2 separate regions of the Homo sapiens genome follow, and region 2 is linked to region 1. Evidence: fine-mapped expression QTL. Tissue or cell type: whole blood. Region 1 holds a variant in brackets; the other region holds the start of a gene. All regions are shown on one strand. Distances are between the middles of the regions.

Region 1 (2,908 bases):
CGCACTGTTGCCCAGGCTATAGTGCAATGGCGCGATCTCCACTCACTGCAACCTCCGCCTCCCAGGTTCAAGCAATTCTCCTGCCTCAGCCTCCCGAGTAGCTGGGATTACAGGCGCCTGCCACCACGCCCGGCTAATTTTTTATATTTTTAGTAAAAACAGGGTTTCACTATGTTGGCCAGGCTGGTCTTGAACGCCTGACCTTGTGATCCGCTCCCCTTGGCCTCCCAAAGTGCTGGGATTACAGGCGTGAGCCACCGTGCCCAGCTGGGAAGATTTATCTTTAGAGGTCTGTGAATATTCTGTTTATTTGCTTCCAGAGTATCTCATACCTATTTATCTCCACCTCCCCCATGCCAGCTTTTCCTCCCACATCACATATGCAGTTATTTACACTCAGAGTGCAAATACAAACACACATGCAGAGTCAACTTCAGAAACTCTCTTTCTAAATTGTTTTATTTTTTCTGCCAAGTCCAAACTTTGTCAGCTCTGATGGAGCCAGATGATTATTCATGAGGTAAATGCCTGGTATAATTCATGGTTATGAAAGCATTTATTGATTCATAGCTTAATTTATATGTAATTGATGAGCAAATGTTTTTTGTTAGGCTATTAATTTCATTACGAGTGTTTGGGCTTATATATCCTATGCAAAAAGATCTTTGTGCTTTTCTCATTGGTCTCTATTCCCCAATTTTCTGATTTCATACCTTCAGTATACTGTAATATTTTGAGCAACCTATCCCTCTCCCTCCAAAAAATAGGGCTCCTTGGACATAATCCAGCTCCCCACTCTGTGGACATGCATGGTTCCCTGAAGATTATAGACAGAGAGAAAGTGGTTGCCACACAGTTTCTCTAAGTCTAGGAGAAAGTTTGATGAAATCCACAGTGTTAAAGAGGCATTCAGAAGGCTCTGTGCTCTCTCACTGAAGCAATACGGTTACTTTGGTAGTAACCTTATGAGACTCCAACCTCAGTTCCTTTCTGCCTTTCCTTTATGTATATCTATACCGAATGAGGCCAATTTTTTCATGTGCATTAAGGCAGATATGCAGAAATGAGCTCATCTTAGGCTCCTCTTCCCTATCCACAGCAGGGTGTGCCAAGCCCAATATCTCAGTATTCTAAGATTCCAGAAACGTGTTCTGTAAACATCAGAACTTCCAGACTTCTATCTTCAGCAGGAAGGTGCTCCGCCTCCTGGGCTCAAACGATTCTCCTGCGTCAGCCTCCCAAGCCTGGGATTACAGGCATGTGCCACCACGCCTGGCGAATTTTGGTATTTTTAGTAGAGACGGGGTTTCATCATGTTTGTCAGGCTGGTCCTGAACTCCTGACCTCAGGTGATCCACTGGCCTCGGCCTCCCAAAGTGCTGGGATTACAGTTGTGAGCCATAGTGCCTGGCCAAAATTTTTTTTTTTATTAGCTAGGTGTTGTGGTGCATGCCTGT[A/G]TTACCAGCTACTCAGGAAGCTGAGGCAGGAGGATCCCGTCAGCCCAGGAGAGTAAAGTCTGCAATGAAGTTTTTTCTTTTCTTTTCTCTCTCTCTCTCTTTTTTTTTTTTTTTTTTTTTTTTTTTTTGATACAGAGTCTTGCTCTGTCGCCCAGGCTGGAGTGCAGTGGCGTAATCGCAGCTCACTGCAACCTCCACTTCCTTGGTTCAAGCAATTCTTCTGCCTCAGCCTCCCAAGTAGCTGGGATTACAGGCACTCCATGCCTGGCTAATTTTGTATTTTTAGTAGACGGGGTTTCACCATGTTGGCCAGGCTGGTCTTGAACTCATGACCTCAGATGATCACCCCATCTCAGCCTCCCAAAGTGCTGGGATTAGAGGCATAAGCCAACGTGCCCGGCCAAAAACATTTAACATAAAAAGTATGAAAGATGTAGTTATTCTGAAGTAAAACAGACCACTTAAGGATTTATTATTCCCCTTTCCTAACACTGTAGGACCTTTGAGAGGTCCAGTGACTTCACTTGGGCCTCCAATAAGAGAAGTGTAAGGCTAGGATCTCTGGGTTCTCAAGCTACTCTTTTCACCACAAGATCACACTTCCTTCCTCTTTTACAACTGGTATGCAGAAAAGAATATATTATAGAAGCAGCTGGTGTGGTAACACAGAGTATGATGGAAAACATCACAATGTTATTTAGCAAGAGTACAAAATAAAATCTGAATTTACATGGCTCTTTTAAGAAATTGTTTTGTAGATTTGATAAGTAGCTCTCAATATGTAATTTAAATAAATGAAACAATTTATTACAAACCTACCATATGTTAGGCACGGTGGTAAGTACTGGAGATACAAAGAATATGCAAAATGAAGTTCTCACTATCATGTATTAAAAAGAAGAACAAACCACAGTGTGTTAGACATTATTGTTGCCTAGCCCAGATCCCCCTTATAGCCTGGGCCGTTCATCCTTCAGCTGCTCATGTGCCTGGGCCAACAGCTTATAGCTGTGACTTTCTCCAGAGGCTTGACTTTGGCTAAATGGATCCACCTCACTGGAGGCTCCTGAGACATTATACCCCCCTCCTCCCCAAGGGTGACCAAGGACCAACTTGTTTCTACTCTCCAACACTCTTCTGTCCCAACCCAGACTTTTCCTGGAACCATATCCTTGCTCAGCTCCTTTTTATCTGGCTCTTCCCTTTCCTTACAGATTTTTTCTAAAGAGCATTCGCTCAAAGTACAGACACTAGAACCCCTTCCTGAGGCTCTGCTTCTACAAAACCCAACCTAAGACAAGAAGTGTTGCTGTAAGTCATAGATAAGTCTCCTAGACACATTGTCTAGGGAAGGATCTATAACAGATCTGTAAAAGTTTTTATATACCCCAATATTTCCTATTGAGACAGGATGTTTCCTTGATCTCCTTGACCCCCTTTGTGGGCAGGAA
Region 2 (2,908 bases), 31 kb after region 1:
ATCTTATTTTCCAAAACCCTCACCAAGCTCACACCTCTCTGAAATAAGTGTTAGCTTTTTGGGCTGCCTTCCCCCAGTTGCTCTGTGCTCCAAACAGATGCCTGTGTTTAGTCCGAGCTAATATGCAAAGGGACCTAGTTTTAAAATTCCTTAGCTGCTCCGCAAAGAAGAGCGCTGCCAAAGCTATGTTGTGTGCCTTCCCATATTTCACAAGTAACAAAATAATTCACAGAAAACACATAGAAGAACAGAAAGGAGAAATCTCTTCCCAGGGACTATCTGATTATGTAGATTAGAACTCACGAATATGGTATTTTCTAATTTAGGAGGGAGAGAGTAAACAAATAAATGTTCCAGGGCAGTCAACCACATGCCCCATTGATATTCCGTGTGAAAGTGTCTCTGGCCTAAGGCACCTGGTTTGTTTGCTTTTTGTCCCGTCCTGGGAGACGTGTCGCCTATAATAACAACGCTAATTATAATGAACAATAAATGATAATTTATGGGTTACCAAGGACCAAGAAGCTCTGGGAGTCTTCATTAAAACAACAGCACTACAACCTCTGGAGGTACGCCGTAATTATTAGATGTTTACGTACCCTCATCAGCGTGCTAAGTTTTTATTGAAAAGCCCCTCCTTCAGTCCCTCCTGAATTTTTTTAAATTATGGAAAAATTCCAAGACACAGAACTAGAAAGAATACTGTAATGCAGCCTCGAGTACCCATCACCCAGCTTCGACCCTCAACTTTTTGCCTATCTTATTTCACCTCTCTTCTCCATTTTTTTTTCTCTTGGACTGTAAAATTTTAAAGCAAATACCCAAACTTGTAGCATTTATTGAATATTTTAGTAAACGCCCCGACAATGTTATAATAATTTGGTGGGTTATTGCAAAATGGAACGCCAAGACAAAATAAAGAAGGAATGTAGAAAACTCTCCCGTGGCTGAAAAGGCTGTCACAAAGGTTAGCTGTTAGGAGAAGCGCCGCGAGCGTGACATTCCCCCAAGAAAGGCGGAGGCAGCCAGGCGAGAAGGCACAGCCCCGCAGGGCAGGTAACTGAATACCTTCTCCGCTGCACACCCAGGCATGCGCAATCCAGACCCTGGAGTTGCTAAGGCCCCAAGGCAGAGAGAGGCTCAGGCTACGGAGAAAGCCAATCAGAGGGCTCCAAGACTGATAAGTTAGCCAATCCAGATTCGAGGGTGAATCAGGTCCTCAGCATGCCCATCGCCCCACCCGCATCCAATCAGAGAGCCGGCTACTTTGGGCGGACTTTTCAAAACAGCGAAAACAAAACAAATCGGGGACCTTTAAAAGGCGTAATGAGACCAGAAACGATCTCCTTCCGCCCCTCTGTCTTCCCCCGTTCCCCAACGCAGATCAATCGCGGAATAAGCCCGACGCCCAGATTCCGCTCTCCGCCCTAGCGCCAGGCGGGAGGACTGGCTCGGCAAAGCCAAGGAGAGCTAGGGAGGCCGCGAGAGAGGCTCGAGACGGCAGCTTAGGGGCGGGACTCTTTTTTAAAGTCCGTGGAGGAAGTGCAGGATCCCTCCGCGGGGAGTCACGTGCCCCGCCCCCTTGGGGGCGTCGAAACTCTTAACAAAAACAAGGGGCTCGGGGAGGTTTCCGCTGAGGCGGCGGGGGTGCGGCGGTGGGCTGGTCTTCCGCGGCCGGCGTTGCGCCGCGGCGGAGGGTGGGCGCGCGGGGAGCGGGATGGAGCCGGGGCTGTGAGGCCGAGGCGGCGGTGCCTGGGAGGAAGGGTCGGATGCCGGACCGGGGGCACCGCTGAGGCGGTGGGTCCCCGACCTGCGAGACAGGTTTGGAAGCCCCCGCTGCGCCCAGTCCGTGCGGACCGCGAGGCCGCGGGCGGGTGGAGGCGCGTCTCCGGCACGGTGAGTGGACCCGCCCAGGGCCGCCGTGGGTTTCTTTGTTCGTGGTGGGGACTGTGGGCTTTGAGGAGGTTGGTACCATGCGAGTGCCTCGGTGCTGCCTGCTCCTCATCCGCTGGAGCGACCAGGGTGCTGCCCTCAGCCCCAGCCCCGGGGGGAGCTGGCGCCCGCGATGGACAGATAGATGCTCGTGGGGTGGAAGGAGGTTGCGACTAGGTTAAGGGCAGTCTCCGCCTCGGTGCCCCCCGCCCCCGCTCGTGTTGTCACGGGGACTTGCTGGCGTGGTGCTTCTCGAATTGACAGCCCCGGGGCTCTGCAGAGTTGTGGGGCCCCGGCATCAGTGGGTGGACGGGTGTTGTCCCTACGGGCGCGGGGCGGGCGGGCTGGACTGGACTTCTCTCCCCGGACCGTAGCCGGGTGTGCCGCGCCACCCCAGGGCTCCTGGGACGGGGGTATCCGCCTCTCGGGTAAGTCCGGAATCGGCGCTGCAGCAGCGGACGGGAAAAGCTGGGGGCGGGACTCTCCGAGAGGGGCTTCTGCAGCTGGGCGCCCCGGGCGGGCGGGGCTCGGGAGTCTCCTCCCTCCGCTTCTTTGTTCAGTCGCGAGACTCTCCCTCCCCTCCCCCCTATTGTGCAACACCCCATCCCCGGGACCCGCTGCAGTCGCTCGCCACACTGCAGTCCCCTGGGCAGAAGGCCCTCCCTGGCGCGACTTCAGGTGGGGCAGACCGAGGGGACGCCGGCGCCCGCGGACAGTTTCCTGTTTGTGAAACGCCAAGAGGCCAGGGCTGGCCGGTCTTACCCAGCGCTGGCCGGCGGACCTGACCACGGCTCCTCCCCCTGCCACACCTCCCTGGCCGTGGTGGGGATTGCCCTGGGGCTCTGGCGGACGTGACTGGTCCCTTCACCCGCTCCTTGTCGGGGTGTGCTGGGGCGACCCTTGCTGGAGGTACTGGCCTCAGCCCTTTCTCCCGCTTCCCCACCCCTCTTACCCCCAGATTACATTCTCTGTGTGG

The links.
Region 2: it holds the start of CCNG2, and the variant in region 1 is fine-mapped to the expression of CCNG2 in whole blood (TOPMed, PIP above 0.99).

Annotation. Positions count from the first base shown.
Region 1 is chr4:77,125,005-77,127,912 of GRCh38, forward strand. No RefSeq gene overlaps it. Among named protein-coding and RNA genes, the nearest start is that of CCNG2, 31 kb to the right of the region's middle. The variant A/G (reference allele first, on the strand shown) is at 1,458.
Region 2 is chr4:77,155,611-77,158,518 of GRCh38, forward strand. It overlaps CCNG2 (cyclin G2), which reads left to right and starts at 1,597. Exons shown (of 8, transcript NM_004354.3): 1 at 1,597-1,896. LOC101928864 (a long non-coding RNA gene) reads right to left here and starts at 2,454. Exons shown (of 2, transcript XR_244659.5): 1 at 1-2,454. RefSeq lists silencers at 1,156-1,275, 1,696-1,765, 1,796-1,905.